2 separate regions of the Homo sapiens genome follow, and region 2 is linked to region 1. Evidence: fine-mapped expression QTL. A gene starts in region 1. The other region holds a variant in brackets. All regions are shown on one strand. Distances are between the middles of the regions.

The links.
Region 2: its variant is fine-mapped to the expression of CTNNBL1 in spleen (GTEx, PIP above 0.99).

The regions. Positions count from the first base shown.
Region 1 is chr20:37,688,366-37,698,559 of GRCh38, forward strand. CTNNBL1 (catenin beta like 1) reads left to right here and starts at 5,665. Exons shown (of 16, transcript NM_030877.5): 1 at 5,665-5,787. The coding sequence starts at 5,758. LOC105372609 (a long non-coding RNA gene) reads right to left here and starts at 2,911. Exons shown (of 4, transcript XR_936703.1): 1 at 2,818-2,911; 2 at 2,498-2,585. RefSeq lists an enhancer at 5,943-6,002 and a silencer at 8,986-9,135.
Region 2 is chr20:37,635,844-37,646,037 of GRCh38, forward strand. No RefSeq gene overlaps it. Among named protein-coding and RNA genes, the nearest start is that of LINC00489, 18 kb to the left of the region's middle. The variant G/T (reference allele first, on the strand shown) is at 5,651.

The sequences.
Region 1 (10,194 bases):
TCAGACAGACTTGGTTTGGAGTCTTGCCAGTTACTAACTATGACTGTGGGCAAGGAGCTAAACTCCAGATCTCAGTTTTCACAATTATTTAAAAATATGACAGTACAGGGGACCCATGGACCTGGATGTTGGGAATAAGAAGCAGAGGGAACAGACTCTTCCTGAGCCCCAGAAATTGCATTCTGCTCCCCAGAAAACAGGTTCCCCTTTCCATTGCCCACTCTGTAACTCTTCCCCACCCATTCAGGTACTGATTGGAAGAGTCAGGATTTCTTCAGCAGTCTCGTATGTTTCAAATCAACCCAAGATTGTAGGGTAGGAGCTCAATATTGATGATAAATATATTTTATAAGTGTGTTTTTGAGAATATTTTCTTAAAGGCTCTTCCAATAAATAATTTACTGGGCAATGAAAAATGGAGAAGGTGACTCTGATTACACTTTGGAGCATCTAAAGTGTGAAGTTTAAGGAACCTAGGCAGCCCATGGCTATTTAAAAGCTTTCTGGAAGGGGTAATTCTTCCACATTTTTTTTAAAGGTTACAGCCCAGCAGTTGGTCTCTTGAATGGTGCTCTTCTCCTAACTCCCTCCTGGATGCCACTCTGAAATCATTATCGTCACAATTTCATTCTGCTTGGTGCATAGCACATAGCTCTTCTGAGCATTCCTTTTTTTGTCTTTAAAATTGAAATAGTCACATTGTTAGGATTTTGGGTGAGAAGTAAAAAAAAAATTTTTTTCTGAGACAGGATCTTGCTCTGTTGCCCAGGCTGGAGTGCAGTGGTGTGATCTTGGCTTACTGCAGCCCCAACATCATTGGCTCAAGTGATCCTCCCACCTCAGCCTCCTGAGTAGCTGGGATTCCAGGCACATGCCACCATACCCAGCTAATATTTTTATTTTTATTTTGTAGAGGCAGGGTCTTACTTTGTTTCTCAGGCTGGTTTCAAACTCCTGGCCTCAAGGGATCCTCCTGTCTTGGTCTCCCACAGTGCTGGGATTATATAGGTAGGAGGCATCACACCTGGCCTTTGGGTGAGAATTTGAAGGTATTTGAGATTGTTATGACCAGGAATTAATGAATCAATCAATCAGTAGATTAGTTGGTTCATTTATTAAATCAACAACTATTTAGTGAGTAACAATTAAGTGCCAGGTACTGTGTTAGGTTCTGAGTTTACTGTGGTAAATGATACAGCAATCTTTGCTCTTCTGGAGCTTAGAATCTGGAAGGGAAAGCAGTCCACAAATGGGTAAAAAGCAAACAAATATAAAAACAAAAACAATAAGTGTTCTGAAGATAATAATGGTCAGGAATGCTGATAGAGAATCTTGAAGGGGAGGAACTGTCTTAAATCTTGTGGTCAGGAAAGATTCCTCTGATGTGTGCAATTAAGCTGAGACCTGAAGGGTGAGCGCCCCAAGTCTCATTCCTGGGGGTTCCCAAAGAATTATTAATGGACCCTCTCATCAAGATAAAATGAAAATATCTTAATCTGGCATTCAAGTTTCTCCAAGATTAGGGTTGCCAGATAAAATAAATAATGCCCATTTAATTCTGAATTTCAGACAGAAAACATTTTTAGTATGTTATTAAATATTGCATGAGACAAATTTATAAAAAATTCATTATTTGTCTGAAATTCAGATTTAACTGGGTGTCCTGTATTTTTATTTGCTAAATCTGTTAACCCTCTTCGTGATCTTCTCCAGCCAGCCTCTCCACCTTTTCTTCCACACATTTGAAGCTCTGTCCACAAGGAAGGGTCCAATTGCCTTGTCTTTGCTCATGCTGTTCCCTCTGCCTGGGTCACCATTCTCCCACTGTATCTTCTTGGTAAACTCTTCTTTCCCTTTAAACCCCTGTCCAGATGTTACGTTCTCAGGGAAACCTCTAGCAGAGCACATTAGCCCCAGTTCAGGGTGCTCACCAAACCTGGTTCTTATAGGATTTTGCCTTATAATTCTGTGTTTTAGAACTGGTCTCTACAAAAACAGACAAGACTGATTGCCTAAAAAGGAAAGGTTATAAGGAATTCTCTCATTCTTCCTGCCCTCTCCCTTGCCCCTATCCCACTCAACTCCTTTTTCTTTCTTTTTTTTTTTTTTTTTTTTGAGAGACAAGGTCTTGCTCTGTCACCCAGGATGCAGTGGCACAATCCTGGCTCACTGCAACCTCTGCCTCCTGGGCTCAAGTGATTCTCCAGCCTCAGCCTCCTGAGTAGCCGAGACTACAGGCACGTGCCACCACATCTGGCTAAATTTTTTTTCTATTTTTTTGTAGAGACAGGGTCTCACTATGTTGCCCAGGCTGGTCTCGAACTCCTGGGCTCAAGGGATCCGCCTTGGTCTCCCAAAGCTCTGGGATTACAGACATGAGCCACCGTGCCCAGCTGCCAACTCCTTACAATATTAATATAAGACACACAGCACTTTTCTGTGCCAGGCACTGTGCCAAGTGCTTTGCATACAGCATTTCATGTAAACCCTCCATAACCTTATGAGGTAGATTTGGTTGAATCTCCACTTTGCAGGTGAGAAAATCAGGCATGTAGAGGTGAAGTTCATTGCCACTGTTTCCACATCTGTAAAATAAGACTCATATCAACATTTTCTCCATGAGGTTTTCACCCAAACTAGAATGTAGGTTTCCAGAAGGCAGGAGCTTTGTTTTATAAACTTCCATATCCTCAGAGCCCAGAATTGTGCCTAGCATTGAGTAGGCTCTCAGTAAATACTTGTTGAATGAATGAATGAATGAATGAGTCATGTTACAGATAAGGAAAGTGTAATTTAGGGACAGAGAAAGTAACTTACCCAAGGACCCATGGCTAGATATGGTGGAACTTCCACTAGAACCAGAATCAGGGTGTGTTGGGTAGATGTTTAACAACTGGCTCGGCTGGGTGCAGTGGCTCATGCCTGTAATCCCAGCACTTTGTGAGGCCAAGGCGGGGGGATTGCTTGAGCTCATGAGTTTGAGACCAGCCTGGGCAGCATGGTGAAACTCTATTTCTACAACAACAGCAACAACAACAACAACAACAAAATAAGCCAGGCATGGTGGCGCACGCCTGTAGTCCTAGCTATTTGGGAGGCTGAGGTGGGCTTCAGCCCGGGAGGGGGAGGTTGCAGTGAGCTGAGATCCCGCCACTGCACTCCAGCCTGGGTGATAGAGCCCGAGCTTGTCTCAAAAGCAAACAAAGAAACAAAAAAACCCTACAAGTAGCTCTCTGGAAAAACAACAACATTAACAACCCTGATTTGTAGCATTTGCTGATTTACATTGTACAAATACTCCTAGCATGGCTGATTTCAAGCTATCAACCTGGTGTCAATCAGCTTGCAAGTTTCCTACAAATTTAACCATGGGCTTTTGTAGACCTGTCTGTGCAAGCTGGCATCAACATACCATGAACTAGAACACAGGGGTCTGGGTCCAAAGGGTACACCCTCACCATTACTCTCTCCTGTCTTCCCAAACAAGGCACAGTCTATATTCTATTTTTTTTTTTTTTTTTTGAGACGTAGTCTTGCTCTGTCGCCAGGCTGGAGTGCAGTGGTGCCATCTTGGCTCACTACAATCTCCACCTCCCTGGTTCAAGCGATTCCCCTGCCTCAGCCTCCCAAGTAGCTGGGACTACAGGCACGTGCCACCACACCTGGCTAATTTTTTGTATTTTAGTAGAGATGGGTTTTCACCATGTGGGCCAGGAAGATCTCAATCTCCTGACCTCGTGATCTGCCCTCCTCGGCCTCCCAAAGTGCTGGGATTACAGGCGTGAGCTACCACACCCGGCCGGGCACAGTCCATATTCTTATATAAGTAGGAGGGGGAAAGACACCCAAATAGACTGAATTCAATGCAGATTGCATAGGTGATCCTTTAAAAACATAAGCCCAGTCACAAAACTACCTTGCTTAAAACTTTCCTTATGCCGTTAGCATAAAATCCAATCTCTCTCTCTTTTTTTTTTTTTTTTTTTTGAGACAGAGTCTTGCTCTGTCACCCAGGCTGGAGTGCAGTGGTGGAATCTCAGCTCACTACAGCCTCTGCCTCCTGGGTTCAAGCGATTCTCCTGCTTCAGCCTCCCAAGTAGAGGCATGTGCCACCATGCCCAGCTAATTTTTGTAATTTTTAGTAGAGACGAGGTTTCACCATGGTGGTCAGGCTGGTCTCAAACTCCTGACTTCAAGTGATCTGCCCGCCTTGGCCTCCTAAAGTGCTGAGCTTACAGGCGTGAGCCACCACGCCCGGCCACGCCTAGCCAAAATCTAATCTCTTTACCATGGCACACAAGGCCCATTATGAAACCTCTCCCTCTACCAGGCACTGTACTAGGCTTGGGGGATACAGTGGTGAACATGACACACACATGTCCTGCTTGCATAGAGCTTGCAATCCAGTAAATGAGGCTGTCAAGAAACAAATAGTCAACCATTAAGCACAAAATTACAGAATGAGATATATACGTAGTGGAGCAGGTACTTGGAAAAAGAATAATGAGGAGAGAGGTTGATTACCTGGACCAGGGTGAGTTGAAGAAGCCCTTGTAAGAAAGTGACATTTGAGACCCGAAAGATGAGAGAATTGGATGAGGTATGGTGCTGATGGCCAGGCAGAAGGGGAGAGGATTTGTCATTCTGAGGAATAAGAATAATTTCTGTATAATTGGAGCCAGTGCAGATGGGATGGGGACCAAAATTATAAATATGAAGGGCATATAAATATAATATAATACATAAATATAATTATAAATATAAAGGACAGGGGCTTATGGAAGGAGGTTTAATTTCCTTTGAAGATGGAGCCTTAAGTCCCAGGTGCATTCTGATCTTGTTTAAGATCAGATGCACTCTGAATGATTCTCTTCCAATTATGGGCAACTTTCTCCTCCAGAAACCTTTTTATATCACCTGGGTAGCAAGGGGATCATCTAGTGACCGTTAGACTTCGCATAGATGAGCAGACACAAGCCTAGAGAGGGACATGTGATCACCAATAGTTTCTCAGCCAGTAATAGTTGTACAGCCTTGGAACAAGTCACTTTTTGAGCCAGCACTATCTGATAGAAATTAATGGGAACCACAAATGAGAGCCACATGTGTAATTTAAAACTTTCTACTAACCACATTTAAGAAGTAAAGAGAAACAGGTAAAATTCATTTTATAATATATGAATTTGACCCAGTATATCCAAAATATCATTTCAACCTGTAATCAATGTAAGTCTTAGAAATCTGGTGTGTATTTTATTTACACTTATGGCACATCTCACTTCGGAGTAGCCATATCTCAAGCGCTCGGTAGCCATATGTGGCTAGTGAGTAAAGTATTGGATGGTGCAGTTGGGAGCGTCAGTTTCCTTTTCTGTGAAATGAGGATAAATCACTGGAAGCTCGTGAGAGCGCACACGAAACACCCGGCACTCCGCCCTGGACACTAGGGACGCGCAATCAAGTTTGGTTTCTTCTGGTCCCTGCTCTCCCCTCCCGCCCCTCCTCTAAGTCTCCGCCCCCTTTCCCCGCCCCCTCAGGCTCCAGGCGGAAGCAACCCTGTTCCAAATGCAGCGCGCTTTACGGCGGCGCGTCCTTTTACCGCGGTGTGGCCGGCTCGCTTGTCGCTCGCACTTTTGCCCTATTGGCTCTGCGGCTCCGCTCGCCGCACTTTACGGCAGTGTGGCTGGAGCCGCGGCTGACGGGCCCGCGGTCTGGGCGTGAGTGCAGGGAAGTGGAGTATTTGCTGGGCCGGGTACCATGGACGTGGGCGAACTTCTGAGCTACCAGGTATGAGGGGCAGGGAGGGCCGAGCGACCGCGTTCTCACCTGGGCAGGGGTCGCAGGAGCCAGAGCCCTTTCATCTCACCTCCTCTCGCCTCACTCCCGGGCCCTCTAACTTCTCATGCCACCCGGGGTCTCAGCCCCTCGTTTTACTTTGCTCTCCGAAGCCCTCCTGGGCCCTTTCGATTCATCCCTTCTCAAGACCTGAGCCCTTCACCTCCTCTTCCTCACCCTGGGGCCTGGTTCCCTGAAACTCCTCTGAAACCCCAGACTATCCTTTTTTTCACAACCATGTCCTCTCAGCTCTCATGTCCCCCCAGTCATTGAGGTGATGGTGGTGGCGGCGGTGGGAGTGCACTGGTCTCACTTGGATTTGATCTCCAGCTTCTCCACTGACTGGCTATGTGGCTTTTGGACAAGTCATTCCCCCCCTCTTTGAACCAAGTTTTTGTATCTATATAGTGGAGACACTAATAACTGCCTTAGTAGGGTTGTTTGAGGACTGTACCAACTGATATGTATGAAAGCTGGTTTTAAAGTGTGGAAAGCTGTGCTTGTGTTTACTGCGATTTGCAGGAGATGTTGGGAATTCTAGCATGGAATGAGTTTCTAGGAATCTTGCTCAGGGTCCCCCTTGCCTAGGAAACTTGTGGGGAAACTGTATGGGACCTAGAGAGCAGAAAGGGCTTGTCCAAAGTCACTCAGAAACAAGGAGCTGGAATTTGAGCTCAGGCGTACTGACTTCCACCCCAAAGTTTTTCCCCCACTTTGATTCCATAGGAGGGTCATTGCGAGGAGCAGTAGAGCTGCACTGCCGAATGTCGTAGCCACTAGCCACATAGGCTGTTGATTGCTTGAAATGTGACTAGTCTGAATTGAGAAATACTGTAAGTATAAAGACACATTTGGGTTGGAGACTAGTATGGAAAAAGTGAAATTTTTATATTGATTACATGATCGTACTGATTATATCAATTACATTGGTTATTGGTCATATTGATTAAATGATCATATTTTGGATAATGGGTGAAATAAAATATACTTAATTAATTTTTAAAATTTTATTTTATTGTTATTTAGAGACAGGATCTTGCTCTGTCGCCCATGCTGGAGTGCAGTGGCACAATCATTGCTCACAGTAGCCTTAAACTCCTAGGTCTAAGGTATCCTCCCAAGTAGCTAGGACTGCAGGCAGGCATCACTATGCTTGGCTGATTTTTAAATTTTTTGTAGAGACAGGGTCTTGCTATGTTGCCCAAGATGGTCTCAAACTCCTAGCCTCAAGCAGTCTTCCCACTTGGCCTCCCAAAGTGCTGGGATTACAGGTATGAGCCACCACACACCACACTCAGCCAATAAAATATGTTTAAAACCAATTTTAACTGCCCCTCTTGACATTTTAATGTGTTTACTAGAAAATTTAAAACAACATATATAGTTCAGCTTATATTTTTGTTAGACAGCCCTGCAGTCAAGAATAGGTGATTAAGAGCCATGAGTCTGGACCCCTAGGTTGCTGGCAGTCTCTGTTTTGCTACTAACTGGCTGCTGTAACCTTGAACAAAATACTTAATTTCTCTCTGCCTTGGTTTCTTCATCTGTAAATGGGGGACAGTGACGGTAGCTGCCTCACAGGGCTGTTGTGAAGCTGTTGAGAAATGGAAAGTCCTTAGACAATGCTTGCCAAAGAGTAAACATTCAGTAAATATTAGCAGTTATTTTCATACCACTCCCTCAGCCAAAGTACAAGAAATTGACCCTGGACGCTTAAGACATCATGGGAAAGAACAGTTCAGCAATGGGGAGCTATATAGCCAAGAGATTTTTCTTTTAAAGACAGTTTAATTGATAGTGAAAGATGAAGGGAAATAGGCAAGTTATTAAATCAGTGATTGTATGCCGGCTTGGAATTTCTAGAATGGCTAGCCCATTAAAGCTAGAAGAGTTTCATTCATTTGCTCAACAAATATATATTGAACACCTACTGTGTGCAAGGCAGTCTATCCACTGGGTATACAACACTGAATAAAAGACAAGATTCTTGCTTTTGTGGAGCATCTGGTGGGAAGTTACAAGATAATAAGTAAACAATGCATTCAGTTTGTGGTAAGTGCTGGGAAGGGAATATAGCAGAGTATGCTATAAAATTGCACTGCTTTGTATAGTAGCCACTAGGCACATGTGATTATTGAATACTTAAAATGTGACTAGTTTCGAATTTAGATCTGCTACATGTGCAAAATACACACTGGATTTCAAAGATTTAGTATGAAAATAATGTACAATATCTTTTTTTTTTTTTTTTTTTTTTTTTGAGATGGAGTTTCACTCTTGTTGCCCAGGCTGGAGTGCAATGGTGAGATCTCAGCTGACTGCAACCTCTGCCTCTTGGGTTCAAGCGATTCTCCTGCCTCAGCCTCCTGAGTAGCTGGGATTACGGGCATGCGCCACCACGCCTGGCTAATTTTTGTATTTTTAGTAGAGATGGGGTTTCTCCATGTTGGTCAGGCTGGTCTTGACTCCCAACCTCAGGTGATCTGCCAGCCTTGGCCTCCCAAAGTGCTGTGATTACAGGCGTGAGCCACTGCCCCTGGCCACGTGAAAATAATGTACAGTACCTTAACTTTTATGCTGATTACATGTTGAATAAATGATAACACTTACGATATATTGGATTAAAGAAAATATATTATTAAAATTAATGTTGCTTTTTAAAAAACTTTTAAAATGTGGCTACTAGAAAATGTAAAGTGGGCCGGGTGTGGTAGCTCATGCCTGTAATCCCAGCACTTTGGAAGGCTGAGGCGGGTGGGTCACCTGAGGTTGGGAGTTTGAGACCAGCCTGACCAACATGAAGAAACCATGTCTCTACTAAAAATATAAAAAATTAGCCGGGCGTGGTGGTGCATGCCTGTAATCCCAGCTACTTGGGAGGCTGAGGCAGGAGAATTGCTTGAACCTGGGAGGTAGAGGTTGCAGTGAGCTGAGATCATCCCATTGCACTCCAGCCTGGGCAACAAGAGCGAAACTCTCTCTCAAAGAAAAAAAAAAAGAAAGAAAATGTAAAGTTAGGTGTTTTGTTTGTGGCTTTTGTTGTATTTTTATTGGACAACACTCCTGTCGAAAATAACCCCTGGGAGTTGGGGACAGGACCTTTTACTTTATGTAATGTGGTCGAGGAAGGACACAGAGGAATGGGCATTAAAGGACTGAAGGTTGAGAGGGACCCAGTCATGTGAAGGGAGCAGAATGATGGAGGCAGCAAGAACAGCAAGTATGGACATAGGCTATTGGTAGAAGCTGGTGCAGCCTCATAGGGGACCAGAAAGAGGATCTATGTAGCTGAAACGGGAAGTGAGCAGGGGAATGGTAAGTGACAAAGCTGAAGATGTAGGCATGTGACAAGACTATGTAGGCCTTCCTTGTGGGCCACGATAAAGACCTTGACTTTGAGAGATACGGTAGATACCTTCATTCAACCCACTTGTTCATGGATGAAAGTGAACCTTAGTCTGATAAAGGGACTCACCTGAGGTTGTGGGCCAAGATGGTGGCCAGAGTTGAAACTAGAATCCTGGTCTCCTTATTATTATTTTTTAATGTTTACACATCTTACCACATTTAATCTTAATGGCAGTACTTAATATGTTAATATAGGAACCTTCATTTTAAAGATGAGGGAATAGGTATAGAGAATAAAAAACGTGTCCAGATTCACACAAGTGAAATGTACCTCAAGGATTCCAATCTAGGTAGCTTTGCTTCGTGATCATAAACATTTGTTTATTGTGTTATTCCAAAAGTATTTCATTTTGTCAATCTGACCCCTTTCCCCCTCACCAAGAGCAAATATGCCTAGCGCCTACAGGTAGATTGGGGTTGCCACAGGCTAATTTTCCTGAACTGCAAAATATTACTTGCCTTCCTTATCCTGGATCTTGGCCTTTACATTTTCTATTGTATCTGAGGGTTCAATCTAAGAGTTTTAAAATGCAAATATGTTGGTTGCACAATAAGGAACTACAATACTAGAACTCATTTAATTCAGGTTGACAACACTGAACTGAACCAGTAACAGGGCTGAAACCTCCTAAGTCTGCTACTGGAGAGCACTTTGATCTCGCCAGCCTAGGGCGGGCATGCTCATGTCCAGCTGGCCAGCCAGGAGCATCTCCTTCCCCATCGCAGGTTCCCCACTTTGGTTAATTGGCCGGCTAGAACCATTCGAGAGGTGAGAGGCCCACCCGTTAGGCACCAAAAACCAGCTCTAGGCCTTTGCTCAGCGAAATATCCTCAATTCAAGGCTAAGTTTCAGAACCCAAATTCAGAATCATGGTCTAAGGCTTGGAAAGCAGCACCAGTCCCAAAATCCACCTCAGGACCTTATTCAGGCCCTGGCTTCCTTACACCACC
Region 2 (10,194 bases), 53 kb before region 1:
ACTGTTCCCCAGAAGGAGGTGTGTAAGGTAAACATGAGGATGAACAAGGTTATTGTTATTGAGAGTGTTCTTGACCAAGAAAATAGTACATGCCAGTGTTTGATGCAAGGGAAGTTGTGTCGAAGTGGAGGAAATGGAAGCATTCCTGATTTTAGTGAGTACTTCCAACAACCTTGTGAGGTGAGGATGATGATCACCTCCATTTTATAGCTGAGGACACTGAGGCTCAGAGAGGTTCATTAACTGGTCTCAGATCTTTCAGCAAATAAGTGATGAAGTTGGGATTGAACCAGATGGCTTAGCCTGGGTTTCCTAAAACACAAAGTCTGGAGCAAAGTGTACATATTTTATGGCAGGTGCAATTCTTAGGCAGCAAGAATAAGGGGGACAGGGTGGCAGATAGAGAAGAATAGGAAGCAAACACAAAGAGCTATGTTTCTGAGCTGGCCGTAGAAACATACCTTTTTGAGCCAATGCAACTGGGTGCTGGGTCACTTGGAGTGGCAGATACGCAAGCCATGTGGAACCTCCCATTTTTGGAATAGTCCATTTGTCTGCGGCTCCTTCCTGGTTCATGGTTGTCAATGTTCCTGATTTGCTGCAAGGAGTGCTGTTACTCAGCCCCTCCAGGAAGCCACTAGGGAAGCCTGATCCCCTGCCCTAAGCATGGTGCTTTATCTGAATGTGAAAGTGGTGGAAAGAGCCTCCCTCAGATCGAGTTGGACCCAGGGGGTCAGCTGCTGCAGCTTGACAGGCTTGATGGGGTGTCTGCAGAAGGCTAGTCCTCACCCGGGGGAAACTGAGGCAGCTGGACTAGAAGAAGAGCCAAAGACAGCAGCCGGGCTCTTCATTGAGCAAGAGGGGACAGGTGGATCGAGTCAATCTGGGACGATACACGAGACCAGGCCTGTCTGATTACAGAACTTACACGCAAGAGGCCAAGCTAAGGCTGGGAAGGTGGGCAGGGGCCAAAGTCCAGAGGGCTTATTGACAGATGGAAATATGGGGCTCTGTCTGCAGGGTAATGAGGAGCCATGGGAGGATTCTCAGCACCTGGCAGGGTGGCTGGCACCAACGGCAACCCAAGAGAAGCTAGATCCCACTGGCGGGCGTGCGCCCAGTGGCCTCATATTGGCAGGGTGTAGGGGGCTGCCCGTCACCCCCCTGCCCTGCCACTTCTCCGAAGCTCAGGTCCAGAGGCTGGCAGTGAGGTGCTGCCCATGACAACTGCAGCGCTCATCCTTCAGCATGACATTGGCACATCACTGGGGGAGTGGAGGGTGACGGAGCACCATTCCGGGTGGTAATGGCTCCAGCGCCAGGAGGAAAATGACATAAATAATATCCCATTAGAGGCGCCGAGCGGCTCCGCTGAGTGCCTTGTGTTGCTGGCAACATTATGGGCTTCATAAACAGACTCATTCATTTTCCACTCGTTGCTCTGGTGGATGGGGGATGGGTGGGCTGCCAGGGAAGGTGACTGGGGGCTGCAGAGGCAGTGAGGGGCAGGAACAGCACAGTCCGCCCCTCCAAGCCTCAACTCGCATGCCTCCAGCTTGGGCCACCAGACTTGCTGGCCCTGTCCACCTCTAGACTTTTGCCCACACGCCCTGCCTCTGCCTGGAACACGCTCTCCCCAGCTCAGTCTTTGGAAACCACACTACTTCTTTCAGGGACTAACTCAGGTTGCTCCTTGGTGCTGGGTTCTCCATGCAGCTTTCCTTAATTCCCAATCCTTATTTTTATTTTATTTTATTTTATTTTATTTTATTTTATTATTTTTTTGAGACAGAGTGTCACTCTGTTGCCCAGGCTGGAGTGCAGTGGTGCGATCTTGGCTCACTGCAAGCTCCGCCTCCCGAGTTCACGCTATTCTCCTGCCTCAGCCTCTCGAGTAGCTGGGACTACAGGCGCCCATCACCACGCCCGGCTAATTTTTTGTATTTTTAGTAGAGACGGGGTTTCGCCGTGTCAGCCAGGATGGTCTCGATCTCCTGACCTCGTGATCTGCCCGTCTCGGCCTCCCAAAGTGCTGGGATTACAGGCGTGAGCCACCGTGTCCAGCCCCCAGTCCTTATTTTTTTATTTTATTTTGAAATGGGGCCTCTATCACTCAGGCTGGCGTGCAGTGATGCAATCACAGCTCACTGCAACCTCTACCTCCTAGGCTCAGGTGATTCTCCCACCTCAGCCTCCCAAGTAACTGGGACTACAGGCACGTAACACTATGCCTGGCTAATTTTTATGTTTTTAGTAGAGCTGGGTTTCAGCGTGTTGCCCAGGTTGGTCTCCAACTCCTAGGCTCAAGTGATCCACCCGCCTTGGCCTCGCAAGGTGCTGGGACTACAGGCATGAGCCACCGTGCCCAGCCCATTCTCCATGGCCTCGAGGCTCCCTTAGCTCTGGTGAGACAGCCTGGCACACTGGAGGGCATCCTGGAGACAGACAACTCTGGATTCAAATTCTGAGCTGGCAATTATAAGTCTGGTGACCTTGGGTTAGTCCTCGAATCTCTCTGAGCCTCAGCTTCCTCTTGTGAAAGGATATCTTGTGAGAGTATCTTACAGGCTTGTCATGAAAAGTGTCTTTTAGGCTTGTCTGGAACACAGTTGATTTTCATAAATAATTGTTCTGCTTGTCCCCTTTACTATGTAGACATTTGAGTTCTCTCCACAAAGGGACCATTGATTTTCTTGTGTCTGTCCCTCCTGGAGTCTAGTCCTGGGCTCCGTGCATGGCAGGTGTTGAAGGCAGGTTTGAGGGTGCAGTGAGAGGAGCTCTGGGTAAAGAATGTAGGGCCCCGGGTCTTGTCCCAGCTTGAACATTGATGAGCTGTGTGACCTTGGGCCAGTCCCTTCCCCTCTCTGGGCCTCTTTCTCTGCAAGGGTAAGACAGAAGTTTACATAAAAGGACACCTGTGGCCCTTCTCAGCTACCACTTAGAGGACCTCAGGCTAGTACCCCATCCCTCCACCTGTCAGGAGGTGGGCTCTGGCTTTCAAGTCAGAGAGAAACAGGCTAGGATCCTGCTCTGCTGTGTGGCCTTGAGCAAGAACAGAACATCTCTGAATCTCACTCAGTTTCCTTGTCTGAAAAATGGAGGTAATACAGCCAGCATTACAGGGTGGTTGTAGTAACTTAGTGAAATTATTGAATCAGTGGTATTCGCTGAACACTTATTATGTGCCAGGCACTATTCACTGTTGGGGATACAATGGTGAACAAGATAAGGATTATTCTCCCCCTTCCCAGAGCTTATATTTAAGTGAGAGAGAGAGAGACAAAAATCAGCCATCACATAAATAACTACATAATTACCAACCGTGCTATATGTTATAAAGAAAAAGTAGGCTAGGCATGATGGCTCACACCTGTAATTCCAGCACTTTGGGAGGCGAAGGTGGGAGGATCACTTGAGCCCAGGAGTGCGAGCCCAGGAGTGCTAGACCATCGTGGGCAACATGGGGAGATCCCGTCTTTACAAAAACTAAAAAATTAGCTGGCCATGTGGTTTACACCTGAAGTCCCAGTTACTCAGGAGGCTGAGGTGGGAGGATCGCTTAAGTTGGGGAATGGTGGCTGCCGCGAGTTGCAATCATGACACTGCACTCCAGCCTGGGAAACAGAGTAGGACACTGTATCTAAATAAAGTAAAATAAAATAAAATAAAATGGAAGTACAGGGTCCTGACCTAGTGCTCCTAGTTATGGAGGGCTTCCTGGGAAGGTGGCACATGAACTGAGATCTTGTTCTGATTATTTATTGCTGTATAACAAATGAACCTAGTAGCTTAAAACTACAATTTTTGTTGATGCTTGTGGTTTCTGTGGATCAGGGATTCAGAAGGGCTCTGCTGTGCAGCTCTGACTCAGGGTCTCTCATGAGGTTTCAGTTAGATGATGGCTGGAGCTGGAGCAGCTGGAAGATGCTGGACATCTCTTTCCTTCTCTGTAGGTGATCTCAGGGATTCTCCATGTGGTCTTTCTGCAGAGGCCGGCTTGGGCTTCCTCATAGCATGGCATCCTCAGGACAGTCATGCTGCTTAAATGTAGCTTAGGGCTCCAGAGCCAATGTCCTTGACCTCCTTCCAGAAGTGTCCCAGTGTCACTTACATGGCATCCTATTGGCCACAAACAAGTCATAGCCTGCCCCAAATCAAGGGAAGGGAACACGGGCCCCACTTCTTCCCAGGACAAGTCTCAAGGTCATATTTTATAAAGAACACGTAAGATAAAAGATGCTGTTGTGCCTATCTTTGCAAAATATGCCCTGCCATAGATCTGAAGGGTGAGTAGGCGTTAAATAAGCAGAGAAGAGAGTTCCAGGCAAAGGGACAGCTGGCACAAAGGCCCTGGGGTGGAAAGAATGTGTGGTTTTGTACTGAGGAAGCACTCAGGGACACAGTAGTGAGTAAGACAACAACCCATAACGTTTGGAGCTTCCATTCTAGTGGGAGAGACAGACAATAAACACACAAAGAAACAAACAACACAATTTCAGGTTGCAATCAGTCCCAGAAAGGGAATACACTGGGTGCCGTGACAGAGTGAGATTGGGAACTGGAGTAGTACTTCAGGCTGGCAAGACCTTTCTGAGGGGGTGGCAATTGAGCTGAGAGCTGCAGATGAGAGGGAGCTGGCCAGCCACGCAAAGGGCTGGGGAAGAGTGTTCGCATCCGAGGGAACAGCATGTGCAAAGGCTAAGAGGTGGAAAAGGGATGGGTGGCATGGTTGAAACTTGGTACGCAAGGGGGCTGGCAGGTGTGACATAAGGATGGACAGGGCGGGAGAGGCCAGGTTTTGCAGGGCTCTGGCAAGGAGTTTGGACTTATTTCTAAGTGTGACAGGGAGCTATTAGAGGGTTTTAAGCAGGAGAGTGATGTGATCTCATTTTGTAATAGAGATCCTCTGGCTGCCGTGGCACTGACTTCTGGGCGTGATGCCAGACTTCCGTTCCTGGCAGTACCATGAATGTGCTGTGTGACCAGAGGCTAGTCACTTAACCTCTCTGAACTGTAAAATGTGAAGAATGGAATATAGTGGGCAGGAAGGAGGGAACCCAGGGAGAAGGCTGTAGCATCATCCAGGCAGAGATGATGGTGGCCTGGACCAAGGTGGTTTCGGTAGAGTTGTTGGTAAGAAATGGGTAGGATCACGACAGACTGGGAGGTAGAATGGACAGAACCTGGTGATTGGATGTGGAGCATGAGAAGGAGGAAAGTACAACCCCCAGGTTTCTGGCAAAGCTTAATCTTATTTTACAGCTCAGAGAGGTTAAGTGACTAGTCTGTGGTCACACAGCACATCCATGGTACCCAGAATTTAGTGCCACCCTCTGGTACTGATACTGAGCCCTTGGCCCTTTTCTCTGTGTCTCCCCTGCCCTACTGCCCCCCATCACCTCCCCTTCTTCCTCCCAGGATGCTGGTGGCTCTGGTTGACGCAGTCCCAGCAGGTGTGCCTCGCCAAGCTGTCGGCATGATGAACAGCTTCCCTTGGCTGAGCAGATAACAGTACACACACAGGTCGGGGGGGCCCATGTAGCCCATCCATCAGGCCCGGGAGTGAGTGGAGGGCCGGCACACCCTCATGCCTGTTATCTGCCACAAATGTGTTTTTCTCCCCAAGGTTAACAGGAAGAGTGACAGCCAG[G/T]TGCCTGACATCAGCAGGGCTGGTGTTCGTAGGAGCCAGCCAGACTCTCTCTCCTTTTCTCTCCCTCAGCGTCTGAAGAGTCCTGGGTGTGGAGACGCTTAGAGCCTCAGAATTGCAGACTCTTCAAGTCTTGAGCACTGAATCTTCGAAACTTAGATGCGTACAATCCTTCATTCCTTGAGGCAGGATTGTGTGGTGGTTAAAAGCGGGGACTCTGGATCCCGCCTAACCTGATTGGGTTGACATCCCAGTTCTGCCACTTACTAGCTGTGTTATCTAAGGCAAACACCTCAGCATCTCTGTGCCTCATTATGAGGGTGGTAATAGTGTAATAGTGTCTAGACCACGGGTGGCCGTGGGGATTATAGGAACTAATCTTTGTATCTAAAGTGCTTAGAACAATGCCCGGCACAGAGCATGTTGCTCATATTGGTAGATATAGAGTTCTTAAAGACACAGAATCTTCAAGTCTAAGTTTTAGAGACACAGAACTTTAAAACCTTTGAATCTTCTTAGGGCCACAGATTTTCAGAATCTTACTATTTTAGGTGATTATGGTCACACCTGCAGTGGCAGCTGCAGGGGTTTTAGGCTTCCATAATCTCTGTCACTTCTTTCTCATTTCATTCACATGGGCAATAGCTAGTTTCTCAATCTTATGTAAAGTGTTCTGCAAATATGGTGGCAAGCCCACCTTCTAGGCAGATTGTGGGCCCCACATAGAAATTCTAGAGTGTCTACTGCACAACACCTCACAGTCTCTATAAATACGTTTATCTAACTATCTACCCAGTCCATCCATCCATCCATCCATCCATCCATCCATCCATCCATGCATCCCTTCATTTATCCATCCATGCATCCTTTCATCTATCCATCTTCCCATCCATCCATCTATCCACTCATTCTATCCATCACCTTCTCACATCTATCAATCAATCTATTGTCTAGCCATCTATATGCATTTCCCATCCTTCCATCCATCCATACATCCATACATACATTCTTCTATCTATCCATCTTTTCATCCACCCATTGATCCATACTTTCATCATCCATCTGTCCATCCATCCATCCATATTTGCTCATCCCTCCTCCCCCATCCACCTATCCCATTTCTCTCTCTCTCCTTCCTTCTTTCTTCCTTTTTAAAATTTTCTCATCCTTCCATCTATCTGTCTATCTATTCACCCAACACTTATTCACTTATTGAGTGTCTATAGCATACAAGGTACTGGATTGGGCTATAGAAGGAGGTCTATGCATTGGCGTCAGTTTCTATCTTCCCTGAGCTTCCAGTCCAGCAGGCCATAGAAGACCCAAACACAAACCTGATAATGCAAGCTTGGCTCTATACAGCAGAGATAAAAAGCCATGCTGAGTGACAGAAAGGGAATTCTCCTTTCTGCTGGGGCCCCTGGGGCAGCTTCATAGCAGAGGTGGTATTTCATCAGGATCTCGAAAGACCCTGTCTTGATGACATTACAAGTGGCTTCATCTTTCAGGGGACTGGGAAGAGAAGCCTGGGGAGCCTTAAACACCATCTGGTTCACCTGGATGACCACTGCTAGGAGGTTTGCTTCCATTTTTTTTTCAAATTTAATATTTTTCATTTTGGTTTAGTGAAGGGGACCAAATGAAAGGAGGTTCCCTTTAAATACCATGTGAAGAAGTGCTGCAATCCCTTCTTGCACACCTCCAGGGCTGAAAAGCTCACTACCAGACAAGGAGAAAGGCCTCTAGAACTCTACTGTGCTCCAGGAACTGAAAGGCACAAAGGGCTCTGTTTGATCTTCCTGACCCCCAGGAACTGTCTATTACTGTTATCTGGGGGGTTGGGGGTAGGAATAGTGCTCTGGACCCAGTGTGTTTGGCTCACATCCCAGCTTCCCATTCATGAACTGTATGACCTGGAACAGGTTACTTCACCTCCCAAGGACTCAGTTTACTCATCCATAGTACGGTGATGGCAATTAGAATACCTCTCATGGGATTGTTACAAGGATCAAATGAGCTAACACATTCATGATGCTGAGTGAATGTTTGTGAAATTATTGCTATTACTGTTTTAGGTGGTTGTATTAGTCAGTGTTGCATCAGGCAGCTCAGTGGAGAGCATGAATCTAGCAAAATCGTGACAGTGGTTTGGAAGAGTTGAAAGTGCAGTGGCTGGAGATTATCAATAGCAGAAAAGATGCTACAGACCATATTCACCATTTGACGAAGGCATCCTCTTTGGACTAGTGGGTGCTGCACAAGTAAATGGGATGCTGTGAGAGAAAGAACCCCAAGACTGGAGGAACAAAGACAGGAGTGATTTTTTTTCAAGACAGGTCTCCTTATGTCACCCAGGCTGGAGTGCAGTGGCGTGATCACAGTTCACTGCTGCCTCCACCTCCAGGTTCAAGCGATCCTCTCACCTCAGCCTCCTGAACAGCTGGGACTACAGGCATGCACCACCACGCCCGGCTAGTTTTTTGTATTTTTTGTAGAGATGGGGTTTCTCCATATGCCCAGGCTGGTCTCAAACTCCTGGGCTCAAGCAATCCTCCTACCTCGGCCTCCCAAAGTGCTCACAGGCGTGAGCCTCCGTACCTGGCCAAAAGAGGAAGCAACGTTACAAGAAAGAGCCCAGGAGTTGGGGCTACCTAGAAGGAGTTGGAACCACAGAGGGAGAGGCTGCCTTTCCAAAGACTAGAAACCAGGGAGGAGATGCAGCTAGTGGAGACCTTGCCCTGAGTAGAGGGAGCAGAAAAATACCCTGCTTCTCCCTCCCTCCTGCCCTGCAGTCTGTATGCACTGTCATCTAGGGAGACAAATCAGAGACAAGGAGGCCTGCTCACCCAGCTTGCAGAGCCCAGAGGATCATTTCCTAGGGTATGTTCCTCATGATCCTATTCTGCAAGATACTTCTTCAGAAAAAGGTTTTTAGGCAAATCAGGCTTGGAAATGCTGTAGGCAAGAACTCTGTCCCGCAGATCTGCCAGGCATGTTACTACAGTGAAGACGAGCAGCAACAGAGTTAAAAAGCCCAGGCTCTGTAGTCAGACTCAGTTCCCTCCTCTATCAAATGGGAATAGTAACAATATGTACTTTACAGGGCCATTTATTCATTTGTTAATTTATTCATTAATTGAGTAGATACAGTGTGTCAGTCTCCAGGGATATGCTGGTGAACAAGACAGACATGGTGTCAGTCCTCAAGAAGCTTACATTCTAGAGGAATATAAGCTAATGAGGTAATGAATGTAAAGTGCTTAGCACACTGCCTGGAATATAGTAAATGCCCAATAAATGCCACCCTTAAAGGCTCTGAGAAGTCCTGCAATGGATACATCTTAAATCCAGGGCTTTCCAAACATATCTGGCCATGAAATCTGCCTCTTTTCCCCCCAATAGTACCCTATTCCTATGCTGCAGCACTCACTGGTCCAAAGAACATATTTTAGAAATGCTAGGTGGGCAGATACGGTCTATACACATACTTATACACAGAGACACACAAAGATACAAATATCAACTACTTCTGGTAGCTAATGAAATATTAATAGGGCTTTGAAGAAATGGGAATAGCTCATCTCTTGTTTCATTTTAAAGTGACCACATTTTGTATAAATCTTGTCTTGGAGGGTAGTAAGTGGAATTCACTTTGATGAGTTTGTTCTGAAAAATACGGAGTCATTAATTAATTGATCCACTCAACAAGCATTTACAGCAGCTTCTGTCATTCTGTGCTGCCTGCGTGGCACTGGGGACACAGTGATTCTAAGGCAATGTGTAGGATCAAGATACGCCCTGTATATTGTGGCAGCCCCAAAAGAGGCCGCCTATGACCATCTGGGAGGGCTTCCAGGAAGAGGCGCTATCTGAGTTGAGTCTAAAAAGGTGAATGGAAGTTTAGCTAGGAAAGGGAGCCCTGTAGAAATGGGTATTCACTGTTCTTGGCCCTGACTCCTTAGGGTCAGAGTCAATTTTAGGTCCAAGAAGGGAGAAGATGGTCTGGCCCCCAGTGGTTTCTTCTCTACTTGTGCTGGGGGCTTGGGGGGTCATGAAAGGAGCACTGGGCTGGGAGTCAGGCAGCCCGGGGAGCAAGTCCAGTGTCTGTCACCCACTACCATGCGACCTTGAGTAACTCACTCCCTCTCTCTGAGCCTCAGCTTTCTCATCAGTGAACTGGGGCTAGCAGAGCTTACCTCACTGGGCTGATGTGAAGAGCAGGGGAGGTGATGGATGAGGAAGTGCTTTGTAAGCTGCTGAGTGCTGTAGACTGCAAAGCTCTATGTATATGCAACACGTTGGCTGCATGTCTTGGCTCAAGACCCAGTTCGCAGTAGGGGCAGAAAGAATTGTTGAACCAAATTCTTCTGCCACCTTTTGGGTTCTGTTCCTCTGGCTTTTGAAATCGTTTTGGTCCTCCTAGGTCCCTTATTAATATACCAACACTCTGAAAGGTGTTAATCCTTATTAGCTAATATCTTAGTGCTGGCACTTTCATTAGCAGTTAACACCTGTAGTTAGCAGCTAACTCCTTAACGGGAATCATC